Regions from separate parts of the Homo sapiens genome. Here all the other regions are linked to region 2. The links come from fine-mapping of genetic effects on gene expression. A gene starts in region 2. Each other region holds a variant in brackets. All regions are shown on one strand. Distances are between the middles of the regions. Region 1 has its middle 29 kb from the start of EPHB6. Region 2 holds the start of EPHB6 (EPH receptor B6). Region 3 overlaps TRPV5 (transient receptor potential cation channel subfamily V member 5).

Region 1 (8,183 bases), 29 kb before region 2:
GGGAAACCATCAAACTCCTCGAGTCAAGGAGACACAGCTGAGAGGAGAATAAGTCAAGTAGAGTTCACAGGGCTGAGGATAGCAGAGGAGAGAAGCGGGCAAAGAGAGAATTTGTGAGGTCATCAGAGAGCCCACCCTCAGTATTCAGTAGGGTATTAACAAGAGCATGAGTGTGAAAAAACCACCTGAGATTGGGAAAATAACCACACAAAGGATTAAAGAAAACAGTAACTGAATTTCATGTAGGGCCGGGAATAGTGTATAGTTTCACCAGCCAAACTCAAAAACATTAAAATTCATGGGGCATTGGGACAAGAGCTCAGAAGTGTTTGGGCTCAGAAGTGGAGGATAATGATCTCTAAACTAAATGCTGCTCTGCTGTCATCTAACAAATGATTAAAGCCAGGTACAAAAGCATCAGATTATTTCAAGAAATGTAACTGTATTCTAAAACAGGGCTCAAAAATATTTATAGAAAAATAAAAAGTCCAACACAAAATTAAAACTCAATGTATGGAATAAAATAAAAAAATTACCAAGCATACAAAAATAGCAGAAAAATGCAACGTATAATGAAAGGAAAACTGGCACAGATGTTAGAATTAGTAAAAAAATAATAATAATTTAATTTAAAAATAAAATAGTTAAGCTAGAGATGTTAAGCAGACATAGAAGATATTTTTAAAAGCTGCAAAGCCAACTTCTGGAGATGAAAATGACAATATCTGAGATGAAAAATACACTGGATGAGATTAATGATAGATTAGACAATGTAGAAGAAAATACTAGTAACCTAGGAAGATATAGCAACAAAGGCAAACCAAAAATGGAGGATAGAGGAAATAAAATAATTTTTGAAAGGAAACAGACAATTAATTGTTACAGGACAACTTAAAGTGAACTAACATAACTGGGGTTTTAAAAGAAGAGAAGAAAGATGGGAAGAAAGAAAAAACTATTGGAAGAAATCATGACTGAAAGTTTCTAAAGTCAATAAAACTCGAACCTCACATATCCAAGAAGCCTGACAAAACTCAAGCATACATACACAAAATACACCAAAGAATATCATAATCAGATTTCTGAAAATTAGTGTTAAAGAGAAAATCTTAAAAGCAGCCACAGGATAAAAACATGTTTTGTACAGTAGAACAAGATAAAGATGACAGAAGATTTCTTGGTGAAAACAAAGCAAGTGAGAACACAGTAAAGCAACATCTTTAAAATACTGAAAGAAAAATACTGTCTTTTTGATAATGACCAGCCTAACAAATGTGAGGTAATATTTTATTGTGGTTTTGATTTTCATTTCCCTAATGATTAATGATGTTGAATACCTTTTCATATCCCTTTTGGCCATTTGAGTGTCTACTTTAGAAAAATGTTGAATAATCAAAAAAGATGATTAGTGATGTTCAGCACCTTTTCATATACCTGATTATCTTCTTTGGAAAAGTGAAAAAATGAAAACATATATTCTTTGAAAACAGGCGGTTTGCCCATTTTTTTAAATGGATATTAACCCTTTATCAGACATATGGTTTACAAAATTTTCTCCCATTTCATGGTTTGCTTTTTCATTTTGTTGATTGTTTCTTTTGTCATGCAGAAGCTTTTTTAGTTTGATGTATTACCATTTGTTTATTTTTACTTTTGTTATCTGTTCTTTTGTTGTTACATCAAAAAAATTGCCAAGACCAATGTCATGAAGCTTTTTTTTATGTTTTCTTATAAAATTTTTGCAGTTTCAGATCTTACATTTAAATATTTAATCCATTTAAAGTTGATTTTCCGTATATAGTGTAACATAAGGGTTCAGTTTTATTTTATTTTATTTTTTTGGATACAGATATTCAATTTCCCAGCACCATTTATCGAAGAGGCTACCCTTTTCCCGTTGCATACTCTTGGTGCTTTTGTCAAAGATTAGTTGACCATATATGTGTGGGTTTATTTCTGGGCTTTCTGTTCGGTTCCTTTATTCTATATGTCTGTTTTTAAGCCAATACCATACTGTTTTGATTACTATAGATTTGTAATATAACTTGAGACTGGAAAATGTGATGCCTTCAGCTTTCTTCTTTCTTCTTAATATTGCTTTAGCTATCTAAAGCAATATTTAATCTGTGAAAATGCCACTGGAAATTTCATAGAGATTGCATTCAATCTGTAGATGACTTTGGGTAGTGTGGACATTTTCACAATATTGACCCTTCTGATCTATGAAGGTAGGATAGATTTCCATGTATTTGTATCTTCTTCAATTTCTTTCATCATTGTTTTACGGTTTTTAGTGTACAGATCTTTCACCTCCTTGGTTAAATTTATTTCAAGGTGTTTTATTCCTTTTGATGTTTGTAAATAGGATCATTTTCTAAATTTCTCTTTTACATAGTTCATTGTTAGTGTACATAAATGGAATTGATTTTTGTATGTTGATTTTGTATTCTGCAAATTTAATAAATTTGTTTATTAGTTCTAATACTTTTTTACTAGAGTCTTTAGGGTTTTATATAATTTAAGATCGTATCATCTGCAAACAGAGATGGTTTTACTTTAATAGTAATTTAGACACCTTTTATTTCTTTTTCTTTAATAATTGCTCTAACTAGGAATTCCAGTACTATGTAGAATAAAGGTAACAAGATGGCATATTTGTCTTGATCTTGATCTTAGAGAAAAGGCTTTCAACTTTTTACTGTTGAAAATGATGTTAGCTATGGGCTTGTAATATATTACCTTTATTGTGTTAAAGTATATTTCTTTTATACCTAATTTGTTGAGAGTTTTTGTCATGAAGGGATGTTGAAATTATCAGATGCTTTTTCTGCATCCGTTGAGATGATTATATGGCTTTTGTTCTTCACTCTGTTAATATGGTGTATCGTTTATTGATTTGTATATGTTGAGCCATGCTTGCATCCCAGGGATAAATCCCACTTGATTATAATGTATGATCATTTTAATGTGATGTCAAATTCAGTTTGCTGATATTTTGTTGAGAATTTTAACAACTATATTCATCAGAAATATTGTCCTGTAATTCTCTTTTCTTGTAGTATCCCTGTCTGGTTTTGGTATCAGGTAATGCTGGCTTCATAAAATGAGTTTAAAAGGACTCCCTCTTCTCCAATTTTCTGGAAACATTTGAGAACAATTAGCATAAGTTCTTCTTTAAATGTTTGATAGAATCTGGCAGTGAAGCCATCAGGTCCTTGGCTATTATTTGATGGGAAAAATTTTATTACTAATTTAATCTCCTCAATCATTGATCTGTTCAGATTTTTTTCTTCATGATTCAGTCTTAGTAGGTTGTATGTGTCTAGGAATTTATACATTTCTTCTAGGTTCTCCAATTTGTTGGTGTATAATTCTTCATAGTAGTCTCACAATTCTTTGTATTTCTGTGGTATCAGTTGTAATATCTTCTCTTTCATTTTGGATTTTAATAAAAAAAGAATCAAGTAGTACAAGTTACATTATCTCTCTCCAGTGGGATTATATTAGAAATTAATAGTAGAAAAATCTGGAAAATCTCCAAATACTTGGAAACTAAATACATGTATATAAACTACCTATGGGTCAAAGAATAAATCAAAGGAGGAATTATAGAGTATTTTGAAGTAAATAAGGATAAAAACGCAATATATCAAAAATTTTTGAAATGCAGCTAATTCAGTACACAGAGGAGAACTCATAGCACTAAAATATTTACATTAGTGTACAGTAAAGGATTAACCTTGCCCAAAGAAAGTTTTGGTCCTCCCTTTTCCCTAGGCTTTGGATCATAACTTTTAAACCCTTGGAATGTCCTGCCTGATTAAAATAACTTTGTTTATCTGGGAGGGTTTGGGCCATACCAGACAGCCTATGCTAACAATGATTTATGGTGGGGACTTTAGGCTACACAGTGTATTAGTGTGTCCAAACCCCTGTAAAAAGCTCTGGACAAACCTCCAATAAAAACTCTGGACACAAAGCTCAGGTGAATGACTCCAGTTTTAAAAATTCGAAATTTGTGTGAAACCACCAATAACTAAAGTAATATTGAGAAAAAAGAAAGTCAATACTTTATGCATACTGTGACACATCATTGCTGAGAGAAATAAGTGCTGTTTGCACATCTCTGCTGGGGACAACTGGAAGCTGCATGCCTA[C/T]GCTCTCTTGAACCCTGCTCTATGAGCCTCTTCCCTTCACTGTCTTTAATCTGTATTTCCACTCTAATAAACTGTGAGTATTGTGGCCTTCTTGAATTCTTTGAGTTCTTCCAGTGAATCACTAAACAGGAGTGATTTAGTGGAGTCCTCTTGAATTTGCCACTAGAAAATGAAAGTTCTCAAATCAATGACCTCAGATTCCACCTTATAAACTAGAAAAAGAAGAGCAAATTAAGCCTAAAATTAAGCTGAAGAAAGAAGGTGATAAATATCACAGGAGAAATTAGTGAAATGGAGAACACAAAACCAGTAAAGAAAAACCAAAGTAACCAAAAGTTTGTTATTTGAGAAGATCAATAAAATCGATAGGGTGCTAGCAGACTAATCAGGAAAAAAGAGAGAAAATATAAATTACTCATATTAGGAATGAGAGAGAAGGTACTGCTACAAAATCTACAGGTATTAAAAGAATGTTAAAGGAATATTATAAACAACTTTATGTCAAAAAATTTTGAGCAGAATAGAGAATCCAAAAGTAGATCCACACATATTTGGACAACTGACTTTCAACAAAGCTGAAAAGGCAGTTCACTGGGGAAAGAATAGTTTTTCAGTAAGTGGTTCTGGAGCAATTAGCTAACCATATGCAAAATAACAATAATAAACCTCAACCTTGCCTTATACCAGCAACACATACTCACTCAAAATGGATTATACATTTAAACAGATTTGCTAAAACTATAAAGGTTCTAGAAGAAGACATGAGAGAAAATCTCAGTAATGTTGGGCTTATTAGTGATTCTTAAATAAAACACAAAAAGCATGAAGCATAAAAGAAAAAAGCTGAATTTCATCAACATTTAAAACTAGATGGTGAAAAGATAACACTAAAGGAATGAAATGTTTGCTGGGTGCAGTGGCTCACGCCTGTAATCCCAGCACTTTGGGAGGCCAAGGCGGGAGGATCACTGGAGGCAGGGAATACAAGACCAGCCTGTCCAACATGGAGAGACCCCATCTCTAGTAAAAATACAAAATTGGCCGAGCGTGGTGGCACATGCCTGTGGTCCCAGCTGCTCGGGAGGCTGAGGCAGGAGAATTGCTTGAACCCAGGTGATGGAGGTTGTGGTGAGCCGAGACTGTGCCATTACACTCCAGCCTGGGTGACAGACAGAGACTCTGTCTAAAAAAAAAAAAAAGAAAGAAAGAAAGGCACAGGTCCACACAAAGACACAAATTTTCATAACAATTTTATTTGTAATAGTCAAAATTTGGAAAAAATCCAATTGCCTATTAATGGGCGAACTAATGCTGAAATTGTCATGTATCCACACAAAGGAAAATTAGCAATAAAAAGAATGAACTATTTAAATTTAAAACAACATAGATAAATCTCAAAATAATATGATGAATAAAAGTAAAGAAACAAAAAAGAGTACATAGTTTATAATTGCATTATATTAAATTCTAGAAAACACAAAGAAATCTATAGTAATAGAAGAAGCACTCTATCAGTGTTTGTCTGGGAACAGCATGGAGAGAAGGATGGAATTATAAAAAGCCACAAGGCTATTCACAATAGCAAAGACATGGAATCAAACCAGGTGCCCATCAATGGTAGATTGGATCAAGAAAATGTGGTACATATACACCATGGAATGGTACGCAGCCATAAAAAAAGAATGAAATTATGTTCTTTGCAGCAAAATGGATGCAGTTGGAGGCCATAATCCTAAGCAAATTAATCCAGGAACGGAAAACCAAATATCGCATGTTATCACTTAAAAGTGGGAACTAAACATTGAGCATACATGGATATAAACAATGGAACAATAGACATTGTGAACTACCAGAAGGGGGAGAGAGACAAGGGGAAGTGTTTTGAAAAACTACCTATCAGGCACTATCTTCTGTACCTGGGTGACAAGATCTGTACTTCAAACCTCAGTACAAACCTCAGTATTAGGCAATATTCCCATGTAACAAATCTGCACATGTTCTCCCTGTATCTAAAATAAAAGTTGAAATTTAAATAAATAAATAAATAGCGGGCCACAGCAAAACTTTTGGAGGTGATGTGTAAGTTCATTACATTAAGTTTTATGATGGTTTCCCAGGTGTTTGCGTATGTCAAAGCTTACCAAATTGTACATTTTAAAGATGTCTATTGTTTGTCAAGTGCATTTTAATAAAGCTGTAAAAGAAAGAATTATTTTTGATACAGTGTTAGGACAACAGAAAACCACTGAGAAAATTTAAGCAAGAGAATGTCAATAATTAATGCCACATTTTAACTAATTAACTGCAATTAATCACAATCAATCAGTAAGAAAAGGTTTTGTGCTGAAGATTTTCCAGAGAGATAAGTAAGCAAGTATATCATGCATGCAGTGGAGCAGGGCAGAGCCTCATAAAATCCCTCTTAAACGTGTCTGTTCTTTTGCCAAATTTCCATTCTGGTTGCCAGCTACCTTTTTCCTCCTCTTTCTTTCCACAGCCACTGCCATCCTCATTATAGCCCCAGACAATTCAGCTCTTGAAAGTGTATCCAGCAAAACAAAAGTGTAACAGCAGCTCAGCACCACTTGGAAAGCAGTTGCATAGCCACCTCTTTCTCTACAAGCTCAGTCCTTCCTGAGGTTGCCCTCTCACCTATTCCCCTACATCAAAAGTGACTCATCAAAGTATTCAGTAGACAAAATTAGTCTCTATCCAGGGAGAATTCACTACTTGGAAAGTAAGATGTTCTGTTTCTCATTACATACAAAAAAAAAAAAAGTTGATAAAATCACAGAATTCAGTTTGAGAGAGAGGAAGATACTAAATGTCATTTGTCATTCTGACCTTGAAGTCACATTGAGTCCAATTCAATCAGAAAAGTGCAAGTGAAAATTTGGATTTTTAATGAGACACCAGGACTAGAAATACTGACTTCAGGGGTCATCCGCAGAGAGAAAATAGTTGAAATGTTTGGAATGGATGAGATCTCCAAAGCAACAAGTGAAGAAAAAGGAACAAAGGTCCAAAAATAAAAACTGTTGAACATCCACACTTATAGGTAAAAGGAGGGGAAAAGTAAGCTTAAGAAATTAAGAAAGTAGTTCTAGAGGGAAGACAAGAAATGGGATGGTATCTTGGAAGTTCAGAGGAGACTGTGGGTACAAAGAGGTGGCAGCAGGATTTAAAAGAACTTTAAAAATTCAGTAAAATTAGGACTGAATGACTTCACCGATGTTGTTGACTAGAGGAGGAGAAAGTAGCAGATTCAGAGCACTCATTTGACAAGTTTAGGGGCAGAGCGAGTAAGGGAGAGGTTAAAGGGAATGGTAGAGTTGAATACAGTCTTTTATTCCAACGTATTTATAGTCTGATTATATAGAAAGCCAAGAGGAAGAACTACATAAAGACAGGAAAATTGAAGATGCTAAAGAAAGAAGATATTTGAGAAACAAAGAGGCATGTGGATTAATTATTGGACATCAAGAAGGGGGAACTTTTTTCCTCTGAAATAGGAAAAGAAGAGAAAATGCGTAAAAGATAGACCTGCACTGAGGAAGGCCAACATACATACAGAAAGAGGCTAGATCTAATGATCGGTTGAATGTAATGTTTTTAAAAACCCACCATTTCACCCATCAGATTGGCATAATTAAAAGAATCAATAGTATCTGATGTTGGCAAGCATGTAGGGAAATAACATGCTCTCATGCACAGCTGGAAAGTAAACTGCAACAGTCTTTATGGAGGGTAATTTGGCAGTGTTTATTGAAACTCCACATGGCCGGGCGCAGGGGCTCACGCCTGTAATCCCAGCATTTTAGGAGGCCAAGGCGGGTGGATCACAAGGTCAAGAGATCGAGACGATCCTGGCCAACATGGTGAAACCCCGTCTCTATTAAAAAAAAAACACAAACATTAGCTGGGCATTGTGGCACGTGCCTGTCGTCCCAGCTACTCGGGAGGCTGAGGCAGGAGAATTGCTTGAACCCGTGAGGTGGAGGTTGCAGTGAGACGAGATCATGCCAC
Region 2 (8,183 bases):
TGATGGGATAGATTCTCAGAATCCATTTGAATGTAGAGAGAGACGTATACTATAAGACAAGAGAATATGGGAACCAGGAAATGTGTCAGCCACATCTACAAGTAGAAGGCAGATCTCATAGAAATGCAGGCCACCCTTTCAGTTTAGGAAATGCAAATGTTTTCAGAGAGCACTATCTGGAGGCGCAGCTCCAGAAATAGACTGCATTCTACTGGAAGAGCCGACCAGGGGACCATCTGCTCCACATCATAGATCATCCCATCTCCTATATGCACCTGAATGGAAAAGATACAAACCAGGAAAGGAGCAAAGAATGGTGTGGAGTGTTGATCACTTCTGCTCTGCATATGAGGACTGCCCTGCCCAAAATCTTATTAAAATCTAGAATGTTTTCAAGTCCTATTGTTTGTATGGGTAACTGCAAAGGATTTGTTATTTTTCTTTTGAGATCATGTCATGGTTATTTTAGAAAGAGGACACTCCTAGCATTTCCCTTCACTCCACTAACTTCCTGGGGACCATCTTTGAGCATTAAACCTATGTAAAGACAGTGGTCTGGGGGAAAGTACCAGCAAGTATATCCTATAAAAAGGAGATAGAGATCTCTGTTGATTGCAGGGAAAAATGTAGATTACCGTGATCATTTTATTTCATTTGTGGCAGAGGCTGCTGTTCCCCTGGCTAACACGCTTTCTTTCTTCCTCTCTTAGGTTTAACAGCTTTAATTTCATTTTGTGCAGCATGTATTTTGCAGGTTTCAAGCAGGTAGGGGTGGTCACGTGACACTGTCCTGGCCAATAATACATATGAAGTCACTGAATGGATCTTCCAGAAAGGTTCTTTGAACAGTGCTAATTCAGCTGGATGTAGCGTTTTAATCCTGTTCCCTTCTTTTTCTTGCCTGAAATTTGTAGACCTCATAGCTGGAGCTCTGGCTAAAATGTTGACAATCTGAGAACAAGTCCTCATCCTAAAGTTGGAGTCTTGTTGACTTGGGACCTTCATCGTATTTCTGTGTTATCTAATTTGTTTAAACCACTGTTGTACAACTTTGCTGTTACATATAGCTGAAGTCAACCCCTAACTGAGAGAAAAGCCATCCTCTTTCTCTTGGAGGCACTAATATCTCTGAATACCTTGTTATTATTGCATGGTTAAAGTAATATCAAAGTGTAGGACTATGATGGGTAAACTTTAATACCACCATGAAGGGTATCCATTACCCTTGGTCTACAAATCAGTTGCAATCTAGGTTTGACTTTCAAACAAACCAGTAACATAGGAGAATTTTTGAACATTCTAGAAGTTTCTGAACAGAAAACAATAAAAGCTTTAGTTGTACAAATGGGCATTTAACACTTCCATTGGTAAAGTGTTTGGAGACTAGACTCCAGCTTTTAGGAAGTGCAACTGCACCTAGAGGCCACAAAGCCTCAAGACAGTTCAGTGAAGGGCCTGAGCCCTGTGAGGTCATGCATTGGGAGCTATAACTAATGTTTTGGAATAAGAGATAGGGGACTCAGAAGACTCCTTTATGGCTTTTTACTAGAATTCTTATCAGTGAAATTATTTGTAAAGCTCTTTGTTTATGACAACATCAGCTTACATTAGCTGTTCTAAGGGGAAATAAGGAAGAAGAAAATTGCACATCCTAGGGGAGTGAGCAAAGCCCAAGAAGGAGGCAAAAACTCAGAAAAAATGAGGCAGAACCAATCTAGGAGCCTTCCTATCTCACCTGGAGTTTTCTACTCAGCAGTTCCTTTTGGTTCCAAATTTACATAATAGATTGTTGTGTGCCAGAAATGATTAATTCTGTGAGCCATAAACTTTATTAGGTCCTGCCCATTAGCAATACTCCAGGGTTTTTTTTTTGAACAAGTCAAAAAAAAAAAATATATATATATACACACATATATATATAGAAAGAAACAGGGTCTCACTCTGTCGCCCAGGCTGGAGTGCAGTAGGACAATCTTGGCTCACTGCAACCTCCGCCTCCCGGGTTCAAGCGATTCTCCCACCTTGGCCTCCTGAGTGTCTGGGACTATAGGCATGCATCACCATGCCTGGCTAATTTTTGTATTGTTTGGTAGAGATGAGGTTTCACCATGTTGGCCAGGCTGATCTCAAACTCCTGACCTCAAGTGATCCTCTCACCTCAGCCTCCCAAAGTGCTGGGATTACAGGCATAAGCCACTGTGCCCATCCACATAGAAAAAGTTTAAATATTATTTTTTATTGATTCATTCTATAACACTTCTAAGCACCTGGAGTGTCCCAGGCACCAAACAAATTATAGCAAAAAATTTACATTAAACTTTAAAAAGGAATTCATTACTTTGCTTTTTAATAGCTGCAGGTTGCAGCATACTTTAACAATGCATTCTATGCTCTCCACCTACCATTAAAACTTGGTTTGATAAGACATAGGCAATTAGGATGCAAAGCCGACTAATCACAAATTTAAACCTCTTTGCATCCTGAGTATGACACTTCCTTTGAAAACTAGATGCCTCTCAAATTTTATTAACAAGACAAATATAACTAATTACACAAGCCTTGAGCAGCAAAAACTTCATTTCATATTATAGTCACCTAATATGAGGTATATCATGAAATAGAAAAGAAGGCAGATATTTTTACTGTTATGTCAATACAGGATACGTTGCAAATTACTACAGGAATTTCTGGGTTTTATAAAGTAACAACTACGGTTTGGTTTTGTCCATATTTTTATTTTAACATAATCTAGTTATGTGTCTTTTTTTTAAGTTTTCAATATAACCATAGATGTCTAGCAATCAGGCATGTTAATGTATGAGTTACGTAATTCCACACACAATGCAAATTCTGTTTCTTTGCAGAAGTCTTTGAAAGCCTTGGAGATAACCAGAAAATGAAGGAAGCCCTCCACCACTGAGTTTCAGGGCAAAGGGAAGAAACAAGATAAAGTAGAACCGTCAGTACAAGTGGAATTATTAATGACGTCCAAATGCAGTCATTAAATACTATCAGACTTATTTATTGACTCCTGATATTAAGAGTGAACAAACCCCTGGCCAAGTGGGAACTTGCTCGGTAGCCTTTATCTTTCTATCACTCATTCAGTCAATTCATTAAAGCCTGTTTGTCTCTCCCAGGTGACTCTTACTGAGTTTCATTGTTTTGTTTATTGTGTTTGTTGGCTCATAGATCTCTTTCACAATTTTCTTCGGCTTCTGAATGCTCTTTAAGTACCAGTTTTGATCAGCCCATTTGCTTTAATAAACAGGAGAGCAAGATGGGACAGGGCGATACAGGGAGAAAAGGGGGCAAAGGGAATCGCACCGGGTGCTTGTGCTCCCTAGAAAAACCAGCAGGTGGTAGCAACACTTCGTGGCAAGGCCCCAGCCCAGCTCTGTAGGACCCAAACAATAGACCCCAAATCCCCGTCCTCGGCTAGAGAAGGGGTTAGAGGTGGGCGGAAACACTTTTCCTCGCGGCGCCCCCTCGGTTCCTCAACCCTGCCTCCAGGCGCCAGCTGAGAGCACCTTGCACCGCCCCTCCTCACTGCAGGGAGGTTCTCTCCGGAGCGCGGGCGAGGGAGGAGGCACCCAGAGGTGCAGCGACTTGCCCAAGCCATGTCAGAGCCAGGCGTACAGCAGCGCTTCCCCTTTTCAACCCGACTGCCCTGCCCCTTGGGGAGGGTAGATGGAGGGAGGTTCGACTCAGAAGCCCCAACGTTGACCAAGATCCAGACACGAAAAGAGAAAAGAGTTCCCGGCTAGCACGGCGACGCTTTCATACCGAGACGCCCCCCTCTCCCGCTGCCTCGGCTCCCCCTACCACCGCCCGTACTCTCCCAGATTTCTCAGTTTGTCTTTCCCTCCACCCCCTGCTTTTCCTTCCTTCTCTCTTGCTCAGCTCACGCCCACCTTAGTTCCAAGCTGAGTAGGAGCCCCACTGTTTTAGTTCCTAGAGTTAAAGCCGAAGAGGAGGGAGGCGCGAGGGGGTGTGTGCAGGGCTCTGCCCTGCCCTGAACTGCCACGGTCCGCCAGTTGCGCTTCGCTCCGCGGGTGTCCGACCCAAGCCGAGCCCGAGCCCGAGCCCAGGCAGGGGCTTTACAGACAGCCTCTTCCCTTCCCACTTCCTGCAGGCGCCCCACGCGTGCGATCCTCCCGGCCAAGACCCGCGGGAGGAGGCCGCCCCCTTCCCGGCGCACAGGCGGGGCCCCGGGCGCGCCCCGCGTCTCCCCCGCGCGCCGGGGCGGAGGAGCGGGCGCCGCGCACTCACCGCCTAGGCCGGGAGGGCGGGCTCGGCTCCCCGGAAGAAGGGAGTGGGAAGGCGGCCAAAGGGGCTGAAGGGGCGGGCCGGGCCGGCTTGGGAGGGGACGCGGAGGGGGCGGGCCGGGCTGCGTTCGCTCCAGCCGCGGCTCTACAGCAGCGGGCGGCGGGACCCGGGACCCAGCTTGGCGACGGCGATCTCGACGCGGGCCCCCAGGATCTCCCGGCGCCCCACCTCTGGAGCAGCCCCTGCCGCCAGCGTCAGGTCCACCCCGGAATCCCAGGGACTCTCGGCGCCGAACGGACCCGGGCCGGGTGCAACGGGGTCCCCGGACTGGAGAAGACGCGGGTGGCACCGTGCGAGCTCCAGGAGCCCCGGGTCCACTGCGAGGCCTCGGGGGGCGCAGACCTGCAGAGACTGCGGCCAACGGGAAGGTGAGCCCGCGGGGTTAGCAGGCGGCGTTGTGGGGGTCGGGGACAGTATGCTTGGGGACAGAGGAATTAAGGTTTGCAAGAGTAGTGGGGCTCCTCAGCCCCTAGGTGGCTTCCTGAGGGAGTACTGAGGATCCTTCCTCAAGGCCAGAGTGGGGTTCATGAAGGGTGAGGAAACGGTCAACCTGGCTACTCCCCTCTCACTCCACTCTGACCTGGCATCATTGACACCGCATTACCCTTGCTGTTAGGATCCCCCAGTTGCGTTCCCAGACATTCTCCTCTGGCTCTGGCTTGGGAGTCCTAATCTGGGAGGGTCCTCGCAGAGACGGAGCTCCACGCTTGGAACAGGATTGCCACCCCTCTGACTCCAGTGGCATCACTCCAATCCCCTTGGAGCTGGGAGGAGTCAGGAGGCTGACCACACACCTGTCCCCTGCTCCCCACAAGGCACTGTCCCCCCCAGCTCCATGACCACAGTTAAGCCTTGGAGGTGGAAGGAACGCTTGGTTCCTGCTGCCCAGCCATCACCCCCAACGTGCAACCAAATTCTATTGCGTGCTCCTGCCCCAGCTCCACCCTCGCTCTGCTCCCTCCATCTGGGTGCTTGGCCCTGCTTGCCCCACACCCCCACCCACCGATCTTGGCCGTCTGGCACCCTCTCTCCTCCCATCCCTGGGGGAGCTGGCATGGACCCAGCATAGCAATGTTGTAATGTCCCTGGCAGCGCCCATGGAGCGGAGCTGCTGGGTCTGTTCCCAGTTAACCCAGGCCCTCCGCCCGCCAGGGGAACTTGACTGAGGCTCTAGGAGGGGAGATGCTGGTCCTGAGCTGAGAGACCAGTGGGAGGGAGCTGTGTGGGGCTGTTAGTAGACCACAGAAGCTGCCCAAGTAAGGGGCATTGGAGCATTGAGGCTTCTGAGTGCTGCTCAGTGGGGCCACTTGGCTTTTCAGAGCAGTGGGCCTTTTTTCTCAAAGGAAGATTAGCGTGGGGGTGTCTATGTACTTACCTGGTGGCCTCAGAAGGAGGACTTGTTTGGAGTCTATTACTCCATTCAGGGTGCAAAAAGATGGTTGGCAATGACACTGAGTTACCAGAATGCTGGGGAGCAACAGGCTGGGGTGGGCTGAGCATGGGAAAGGCAGGATCCTCCTTCTGGGACGGCTGTTCTGCTATCACTCTGTCCTGAGCCTGGGCCCTAGACCCTGAGTTCCCACTCTAGGTAGAAGGAGGATGGCAGGTTCTGGAGGGTTTGGGAAGCCTCAGGTTTCCCTTTCTTTACCCACTCCTCCCCGCCCCCCACTTGGCTCCCTCTCCCAGCCCAGGTGTTTCTGCAGAAGTACCTCCTGGGGCCAAGAGCAACTCACAGCCAGACTGGGGGTAGAGCAGGGGCCGAAGGTGAGGAAGAAGGGCCCATGGAACCACTCCGGAACCAGCACTGATGTGCATCTTCTGCCACAGGAAAGCAACAGCCCCCATCTACACAGACAGCATCTGCTCCCGCCCACCTCATCTCATACACATTCCCTTACACACTCCACCAGGTAGACACACATCCTCAGGCACTGCTGACGCAGGTGCTACTCCTGGCACTCAGGGGCTTTCTTCCACAACCTTCCACTTACTCATCTCTCAGGCACATTTGCCTCCTGCCTTAACACCCTCCCTTATGCTCTTTTCCAGAGCCACGCATGTCCCCGGTCAGTGCACAGAGTGGCTCATTCTAAGTGGCTGTCTGGCTAGACCTAGACACTGCCTGCATCTTAAAAGCCTCCCCCAGCTCCACAGCCTGGGAGTGGGAGGCACATTTGTCTGAGTCACAGTGCTCTGGGGGACATTCTCAGGGGCTGGAGGCCTCCAGGGACACAGGACTGTCCTCTGCTAGGTAATCTACAAATTGGCTTCTCCAGCCAAGGAAGCAGGGACTAGAAGAGCCGGAGGACAGCCACCTCCTCACTGTCTGTCCTGGATGCCTCCATGAAGCCTGATGATGGGATCCTTCTCAAGGCAGGAGGCCAGAGCACGAAGAGATCTCCAAGGTGGAGATTAAAGGATAGAGGCTTTGGCATTAAACTGAGCAAGGATTATACTGGAATTTCCTGGGCGTTTAACAGCTGTGGAACAGGATAGGGGACAGGGCCTGTGGTACTGACCCCTCCCACACTGACCTGTGTGGCTCACAGGTGTAAGGACCAGCCCAGCAACCACACCAGACATAAAACCTCGAACCGCTTTGCCCTTGGGACTGTTCTGTCCCTGCTGGACTCTGCAGCCTGCTTTGTCTCACTAAATTGTTCCTGTCTGGGCTCGGTTTGGGGCCATGCCCTTTACTATGTGTTCCCAGTGGACAGTCCCCTGGGTTCCCCTCTGTCCCTTCATAGCCTCATCCCTTTGCTTGACATCGTCGAAGAGAAGCATGCATGATGTCAGCAGCGGGACAGTTGGAACTTCTTGGGAGACAAGCTTAAAGACTAGCCAGAGATAACAATTATTTTGGTTTTCTTGTTGGCATTACTTCACTCATTCATTCTCAGCTCCTACTGTATTTCCACCTCTACCTTCTTCTTATAGATGAACATTTCTTGATATTTTGAAACATAGAAGGAAAATGGCATGGGGAGTGAATAAAATGTAAACGTATGCTTATTTGTCTAGGTTTTACAAATATTTTTCTTTTTTGTTTAGATTTTAATTATGAGATTTTACGTTAATTATAAAAATAAGGTATGCTTACTGTAACAAGAAAAATAATTGAATTATGTGTAAGACAAAATTAATGCCCCCACCTACAATCCTTCATTTCTACCTCCCACAGTAACCCATTTTAATGGCCTAATATGTCTTCTGCCTACCTTCCTCCAAGCTTATTTGGCTTACATTATTTAATCTTTAAAAATTCACTTTGTGGATTGAGGTGCATAAACTATATTAAGTAAGCTTGATTTGCTCATGAAAATATCATATTTAGCATTTAATTGGAGCACGATTAATTTTTTAAATTCTTACCAATTTACCAATTTAATTTACTTTTAAGTCATTCTTTTTTTTTTTTTTTTTTTTTTTTTTTTTTGAGACAGCATCTTGCTCTGTCGCCGAGGCTGGAGTGCAGTGGCACGATCTCGGCTCACTGCAAGCTCTGCCTCCCGGGTTCACGCCATTCTCCTGCCTCAGCCTCCCCAGCAGCTGGGACTACAGGCACACGCCACCACGCCCAGCTAATTTTTTTTTTTTTTTTTGTATTTTTAGTAGAAACGGGGTTTCACCGTGTTAGCCAGGACGGTCTCGATCTCCTGATCTTGTGATCCGCCCACCTTGGCCTCCCAAAGTGAAATATTTCATTTTTATAGCAACATAACTCGTAAGCTATGCTTTGTAACCTATGATTCTACAAATCTTTACTTTTTGCCAGTTTCTGAAAACAAAACACAACCTTGATACCTAAGAAACAGTCTTATTTTTGTAAACCAAAGAGATGTAGCAGGCTTGTG
Region 3 (8,183 bases), 72 kb after region 2:
AGCTTTACAAACATCAGCTTTTGTGTAGTTTTTTGCTACCTTATACAGAGGAATTTGTTTTCTCTCATCTGTTCTGAGATGGTGCTGTTGCACTACTCTTATAAAATGCCAGATATTAAACTAGAAAGGATCTTAGGGGTGATGGAGCCCAGTGATTTCCACAGATCCCAAGAGATCTGCAGAGGAAGTCCTGAAGTGACTGAGATCCCTGTGATCCCAGAGTTATTAATATAATTGGACAGTAAAGTATTCATTCATCTAAGAAAAAGCTCCACCAGCTAACTAATATGTCAACAATTGCATGAGTCAAATCAAGACACTGTATTTGTGCGTTTTCATTTTTTCTAAGACTTTCAAGTAAGAAAACAGTAGGAAAAAAAAGGAATTTCCTATTATTTAAAAAATCTGGTGCACTGTGAAAACAGAATCTTTCAAATCATGATGATAAGTTTAGGAGCCCCTGATCTAATCCAAATGGGCTTACTACTGAATAAGAAGAACATAGTCATCCCATAAATCAGGGCCAGGGCTCAAAGCATAGGGACTTTTCATTAGCGTTCTTTGTTATCTAACCCCTTCCAGCAGCATTCTCAATCCTCTTACCCACCCACTTCTCCACCAAGAAAAGAATATCTGAAAGTCCAAAGTCTTCTCTTTGAGCTGAAGTGGCTTTCACTGAAGCAGAAGGCAGAAAGGGTAAAAATGCCAAGGAACAAGAAGGAAGGCAGAAGAGAGAAAGAAAGAAGGATGGGTCAGGTGTTCAGCTATAATTATGCTTCTGAGTCCTGAAGCAAAGGAGGCGGTCTTTTACATACAGACTATCTGGATCAAAGAAATGTGATTGTACATAACTAGCCCTGTCCCAAAGAGAAAGAGACACACAGGAAGGAGAGTTTTGGTTATCAGTGGCTCAGCATTGCCCACCTTTTAACCCAGAGTCCTGTCTACCTTCAAAATGCAGAAAATCTCCAAGTAAATTTGAGACAAAGGAAGGTTGGAGAAGACATATCTGAGGAAATAGGGCCAGGAGCATTGGAAAAGTCCAGTCATCCCCACCTTGTTTGTGTTTTCTCAATTTCTAATCACTCCTCCCTCCACTTGCCATCTCCTAACTGTCCTTATTTTCCTCATGTCTCCATGCCAGGGACAACTTTTGCGGCCAGACTGAGATGCATGCAGCACAACTGCTTCCAGTGTCTCTAACACATTCAGGCTTGTCCTCCCCAGGCAGCAAGACCTACTTGGTGAGAGGCAGTGTATCTGGACACATGACACACTGTATATATATACATATATATATATATACATATACATGTATATATATACATATATATATATATACATATACATGTATATATATACATATATATATACACACATATACATGTATATATATACATATATATATATATAGACATATACATGTATATATATACATATATATATATATATACATATACATGTATATATATAAAGGCAATTCTAAAAACAGGAGAGATGGAGTGTCTCTACCTAGCATAGGGTTCATTTGGGCTCTTTGCCCTGTTCTTTCTCTGTGCATATCGCTGTCTTTGGTCTAAACAAATTCAGGATTTTTGCTTCTTGGCTATAGAAAGTTTATATTCTCTTTCCGACTGAAACTACCCTGCTTCCTAGTCCAGGCTGAGCTATACCTATGGCTGCTCTCTCCTGCATTGAGATAAATCTCCAATCACTCAGTTCTCACTTGCTTTGCAAAATTCTTTTTCCTGGTCTTTTGCTTTCTGCTACATACCTACATCACCTTCTGTGTATTTTCAGCTCACCAGGACAAAAATTTTAGTAATCCACAAAGAGTCAACCCCTCAAATATAGCTACAGTTGTTAAATATATATATTCAGAAGTGCTCATTAGAGTCTACCCTTTCTGTTGCACAAAAAGGAGGTTTACTTTCTTCAACAGCAGATTTCTATATTTACTGTGTACCTCGAATCAGTCCTCTTCCTAACCCTAGTTTTCCCTTGGCCACCACAACACAGAATGGCAGGCCCACAACACTAAATGGAGCCTCAGAGAGTATTTACTTCAGCCTGATACCCAATCCAGACATCCTTCTGCAGAGTGTCTGACAGGCAGTCAGACAGCTGACACATTATTCCCATGGGCCCATATAGACAGCACACAGAAGAGGGTGCAGGCCAGCAGGGCTGTCTGTGTTGCCCAAATACAACAAAAATGGACTCAGAAATGGACTTGGAGCACAATTTTCCTCCTTTTGAGCAATAGAGTTTACCTTGAACATCCCACTAAAAAACCCTGATACTTTTTGTAAATTACCAAAAAATTTCACAAAAGCACAGGCTTACTCATGCCAAGCACTCTTTCAAAGTTTGTGTGAGAAAATCCACAGCTCCCTGGACAAATGCTCTTGTGCTCATTAAACCCCATCTGTGGCCTCCTGGTCTCATGTCTAATTTCTACCTGGGTGTTTAGGAGCCTACACCTGCTGGAACCCAGAGCGTGGCATCGTCCCTGAGTAGCATGGCTTCGTTTCCAGCACCATCACCCCTTGATGCAATTCTCTCTCATCCCCTTCTGAGGAGAATCACCTGTAGTAGTTTTTGCTGGAGGATGGTGATGTCTCGAGAATGAGTGCGGTTGCCACCACGAAACTTAAGGGGGCGGTAGACGCAGCACGTAGTAAAGCAGATCATGTAGAGCAGGTACAAGGCAGCCAGGATGCAGAAGTACGGCCGGCCATACTTGTTCCACTTGAAGCTCACCAGCTCCTTCACTGGGGTCTGTTCCAGAATTTGGCGAGCCTGGCATGGAAGTAGAGTGAAACTTGGGGTGACCAACACAGAAGGATGTTGTTTATCCCACTGGGGGCCAGAAGAGGCAGGGCAGCAACCATCACTCACTCAGCTCATCAGTCACTTATTTGACGGACAAATAGTATATTTCCTGCATATGGCTGGGCCTTGTGCTAGTGATACAGGTAAATGACTATAGCAGTAAACACAAGGCACCATAGCACCAAAGAGGATTTAAAGGATGAGTAGTAGTTAGATGAGTAAAGGGAGAGTTAGGAAAGATCATACCATAAGCTAACAGCAGTTGCCAGGTCAGGAAGGTCTGAGAAGCCATTGCCCATTTGCAGTTGAGATGTGGTTGGGGAGAGGGGAGAATCTATTGGGAGTGGTAGTCAGAAATGATAATGACTGAGGAAGAACAGGGCCAGGTCATCATGCATCATAAATGCCAAGGTAGGAAGTTTGCATTTTTTGTTTTTTCTAAATATAACAGAAAGCAACTGGGGAGTTCAAGCAGGGAAGTGGTCAGATTTGCTCTAGAAGTATTATTGGGCTGGAAAGAAGCAATGGAGGTTACAGGCAGTAGGATGTGGCAGGGTGGGATGGTGCTCTGAAATAAGCAGCCAGTGAGACGTTAAAGATACACAGGAGAGGGGATGATGGACGGGAGGAGGCATCTGAGAAATTAGAAAGAGACAGATTCAAAGCACAGTAGAGTGATTAGCCATTAACAGCATGAATATCTTTTCTACTGAAGCTGGAGGGGAGGAGAGAGACAGTGGGCAGTTTCCAGACATGCTCGGCAGTGTAGGGCAGGAAGCTGAAGGATCCCCAGCCAGAAAGCCTCTATTTTTGTCCTAAATCAGGAGTCTAGGTCTTCTGAACTGCAGCTGAAGGTAGTGAAGGATGTGAAAGGGGGCTAGAAAGGAAGATTTATGGAGGAAAAAAGCAACTGACCCAAGACACTTATGAAACCTGCTGGAGAATATTGAGAATAGCTTAAATCAAAGACCAAGGATATGTGGTGGCGAAATCCACACAGTGGGATTGTGCTTTTAATACCTAAGAAATCCTGCTCAAAGTGTATCTGTTTCCAGGGATATTCTCTGAGGAAGATCTCACAAACTAGCCACTCAACTTTTCTTCTATTCGTTAGTATTAATAATCATTCATGTTTTCTGGATCTATAAGGATTCCTGGGAAATTGTCACTGTGGCAGATACAAAACAGAAACTACATCTTGGCACTCTCATGGAACGTTCTGAAACCTGGAAGTCTTTTCTCCTCTCTACTGCAGTCTTCAACAAATTTTCGTTTCCCTCACATCACTCAACCCAGCATTGTTGAATGGTCTATACGTTGCTCCCTCTCTAAAAAGCTCTTTTTTTTCTCTCATCTTCCTGTGACTCCCAATTCTTCCTTGAAGATCCAGCCCCAGCATTTCCTCTGTGACATCTTCTCTGGTCTATCCAAGCCAAGTTAACTCTACCTCAATGTGGCTGTCT[G/A]CATGCATGGTACACACAACTATTACGGCATATGTCATGCTCTGTTGCAATTATTCAGGACAGGGACTGAGAATTGAGGAAGTTGATGAACAGGAACTGTGTTGTATTTATTTCTGTACTGTTTGTTTCTTGTGCAGTGCCTGACATACAGCGGGTGTTCAATATGCTTGTATTAGTCCATTCTCATATTACTATAAAGAACTACCTGGCACAGGGTAATTTATAAATAAAAAGGTTTAATTGGCTCATGGTTCTGCAGGCTGTACAGGTTCTGGAGAGGCCTGAGGAAACGTACAATCATGGCAAAAGGCCAAGAAGAAAGCAGGCACATCCTACATGGCCGGAGCAGGAGGAAGAGAGAGCAGGAGGAAGAGAGAGCAGGGGGAGGTGCCACACACTTTTAAACAACCGGATCTTGTGAAAACTCACTATCACGAGAACATCAAGAGGGAAGTCTGTCCCCATGATCCAATCACCTCCCACCAGGCCCCTTCTCCAACACTGTGGATTACAATTTGACATGAAATTTTTGCATTTGGACACAAATGCAAACCATATCAATGCTGAACCAATGAATGAATATGAGGAAACAGCTCTTATTTGGAGTTTCTCATCTGAAATGATAGAAGGCGAAAGGTAGGCAGAAGGGACTGGAGCTAAGCAGAGAGACAGGGGATTCAGGAGAGGAGTGTGCATTGGACTTTCCCCCATGTCCCAGGAGACTATTCTCATCTCCACCTATTATAAGGCTGGGAAGTGTCTCAGGCCCAGGATCTTAGTAAGTGGACAGACTCTGCACAAACACTAAATTCCCTCACATGACAGGCCTGATCCTCCTTGGCATCCATACCTCTCGTTTATCAGAGGAGACCACAAGCTCCAGGAAGGACAGCTCCTCTCCCCAGGAGTCGATCTCCGTGAGGTCGTAGAGAATGGAGGTCAGGGGTCCATACGTCCACTGGATGTGCCTCCGCTTCTGCATCAGGTGCTGGAACATCTGAGAGACCACCAGGATGAGTCAGGGGGCCAACGTGTGAGAAGGTGGTCGAGGAGAACAACTCCATTGGATGGAGCCAGTTGCCCACCCCTTGAGACAGACAGACAGTGGGAACCAGCAAACCTCTGCATCTACAAGCTTTCCCTTTTTTGTCATCTTTCCTGCTCCAAAACCCCAGAAAGTGCAGAAAGAAGAAAATAGGCAAAGGAAGCTAGAGCTTTGGGTTATCACAGCACATGCATTAAGGTAAGGTTCTCAAATCCTCTTGAGTCAAGGACCATGAAGCTGAAGATTTCAGTGATGGAATAGGAAGCAAGGGACCACCATCCCTTTGGGGAGTTTGGGGAAAAGGGATTTTAGAGAAAGGTGGGCCCTTCACCTCTATTTCTCCCAGGGCCAGCAGGATAGGTTGAGGGTCATTAGAAAGACACCTCAGGGATGGGGAGCGTCTCTTACCACAGTGTTACCCTCCACTCCAGCCAGCTTGAAGGGGGTGAGACCCTGGTGATTGGGCACAAGGTCCAGGGGCTGCAGGTGGTCCCCATGTCCATCATAGGACAGCAGCAGGTTGTACATCTGGCAGGCAAAGGTTTTGTTGGGCTGGAGGATGAGGATGTGTAATACTGTGTTTCCTGGGGAGGACGCAGGGTATCATGTGGCCACTGGCCTAAAGTCCCTGATGTCCCCATCCCCACTCTGGGGTCTTCCTAAAGGTCCCAGCTCCACTCCTTACCCTGTCCCTCGCTCCCCACAGCATCCCAGCTCCCCTCCCCATCCCAGCTCTTACCCAGGGAGTCCTGGGCCCTGATGTCAGCTCCATGCTCAATGAGCAGCCGCACGATCTCCTCGCTGTTCACACAGGCAGCAAAGGACAAAGGGTGCTCCCCTGTGGACACAGAGAGATCCATGGCAGGAGAACGCAGGATGGCAGGATGGGGTGGGCAGTCTCCCCCAAATAAGGGCCTCCTCCTCATCCCCCATATCTCAGTTCTAGGCTGAGGGACACTCGTCCAGCAGAACCAGAGGAAGGAACCATCAGGGGAATGGGCCTCTGGCTTAATTAAGCCCTAGAAGGGCTGCCCCTCTCAACTGCCCAACAGATGGAGCTGAAGGCAGGACCCTCATGCCCTGGCCTCCCTCTGCCTTGCCCGCCTCTCCAGCCAACCATCCTTCAAGCCCAACCCTGCTCTCACCAAAGTAGATGAGGTTGCGGGGACTATGGCGGAAGGCAGTGCCTGTGGCTCTGGCAGAGACACTGGCCCTGCGGGTGAGCAGGGCACGCACCAGGTTCACATTCTGGTTCACAACAGCGATGTGCAGTGCAGTCTGACCTGGCCCAGAGACAGCCATCATCAGGGTCTCCCTCTGTCCCCAGTTCTCTCAGGGACACAGCATCCCCCACCATCCCTCTCAGGAGGTTCCTGATAGATCTTTGCTAGACTTCTGCCCTGGGCTTGGCAGGGTGGCCTGGGACTAAGAGCAATTCATCCCTCAGGCTGCCCTGCTCATTGACCTACCCTTCAGTTATTGGGAGCCAGCAGGGGATTGCTATGAATATAATCATTCTCATGTTGCTATGAGAGAAAGAAATTGAGATAGGTCCTACAGGGACTATGGGAGGTTTGAAAGGAAATGCTGAAGGAAGCCACAGATTGGTAAAAGCCAAGACCAGGACCTTTGCATTTCTCCCAACTCAACGGAGCCCATCCTCCTGACCCTCCATCACCCCACCCCAACCCATCCTTCAGAGGCCAATTTTAAGAGACAACAGCACACCCTCCATCTCAAAGTTTCCACCTTGAATTACCATGTAGGCTCCTTACCTGCAAAAGCCTCACATGTGGTGGGCTCAAAGACCAGCTCTGGGGCAGCCTCCATCAGCACCAAGGCCGCCTCCAAGTTGTCATAGAGGGCTGCTATGTGCAGCGCCGTCTCCCCCAGGGCTCCTGGATTGGAGTAAGACAGAGATGTTAGACACTTTTCAGATTCCCTTGAGGAAGGGGCCTCAGGCTCCAGAGACACCCTCCAAGGCCCTATTTCACAAACTCGAAGTCTTGGGGAGGAGGAGTAGGTTCTTCTGCCCCCACCTCCATCCCATTAAATCCAGATCCCACCTCTTTGTCGAACGTCACAGGTGCAGTCCAGTAGAAGTTGCCTAAGAACAGACAGGTCATTTTCCTTGGATGCTCGAAGCAGTGGAGACTCTAGAATCCTGGGGAAAGGTGAACGTGAGTTTGGAAGAGACAGTCATAGCAGAATGAGGCCAAGAGCAAAGGGGATCTAAGACATTCTTTAAGACCAACGTGACTCACACAGCGTGCAGTGACAAATTGGAAAGAAGTGCCTACTGGACTCGAATGACCGAGGGTGGACTTGGGCAAGGGTCAGCCCCAGGGCCTTCCTTGCAATTCACATCATGGTGATTCTCCTGTGAGGATGGCCCTTGAAGCTCTGCTGGAGGGGAAGAGTTAATAGGAAGAGAACCTGTAGTCTGGAAAGAGTGGTCTGAGAGTCTCTAAGAAGAGGACCCTAGGCTTGGCTGAATTCATCTAACCTGAGTAACTGTCTCAGATCCTGGATAGTTGGAGAGCGGGACAGAGGGCACTTCCATCTGCGGTCCCCCTGCTCCTGGGCCTGCTGAATCTACTGTCTTTAACCAAGGGGAGTTTGGGAGACCAAAACACAGAGGGAGGAGGAATGGATCGACTGCTAGATCTTTCCTAGGCATTTTGAAATTTGTGAAATTTGTGAGGCACTAAAGTTCTGACTACTCCCTCAGGCTATTTTTTTTTTTTTTTTTTTTTTTGAGACAGAGTCTTGCTCTGTTGCCTAGGCTGGAGTGCAGTGGTACAATCTCAGCTTACCGCAGCCTCTGCCTCCCAGGTTCA

What was found. PIP is the estimated chance that this variant, and not a neighbour inherited with it, causes the effect.
Region 1: its variant is fine-mapped to the expression of EPHB6 in whole blood (TOPMed, PIP above 0.99).
Region 3: its variant is fine-mapped to the expression of EPHB6 in whole blood (TOPMed, PIP 0.91).

The regions. Positions count from the first base shown.
Region 1 is chr7:142,821,528-142,829,710 of GRCh38, forward strand. No RefSeq gene overlaps it. Among named protein-coding and RNA genes, the nearest start is that of EPHB6, 29 kb to the right of the region's middle. The variant C/T (reference allele first, on the strand shown) is at 4,158.
Region 2 is chr7:142,850,689-142,858,871 of GRCh38, forward strand. EPHB6 (EPH receptor B6) reads left to right here and starts at 4,388. Exons shown (of 20, transcript NM_004445.6): 1 at 4,388-4,697.
Region 3 is chr7:142,922,940-142,931,122 of GRCh38, forward strand. TRPV5 (transient receptor potential cation channel subfamily V member 5) reads right to left here. Exons shown (of 15, transcript NM_019841.7): 2 at 7,410-7,507; 3 at 7,119-7,241; 4 at 6,489-6,626; 5 at 6,083-6,181; 6 at 5,752-5,927; 7 at 5,149-5,295; 8 at 2,590-2,802. Among named protein-coding and RNA genes, the nearest start is that of TRPV5, 6.7 kb to the right of the region's middle. The variant G/A (reference allele first, on the strand shown) is at 4,299.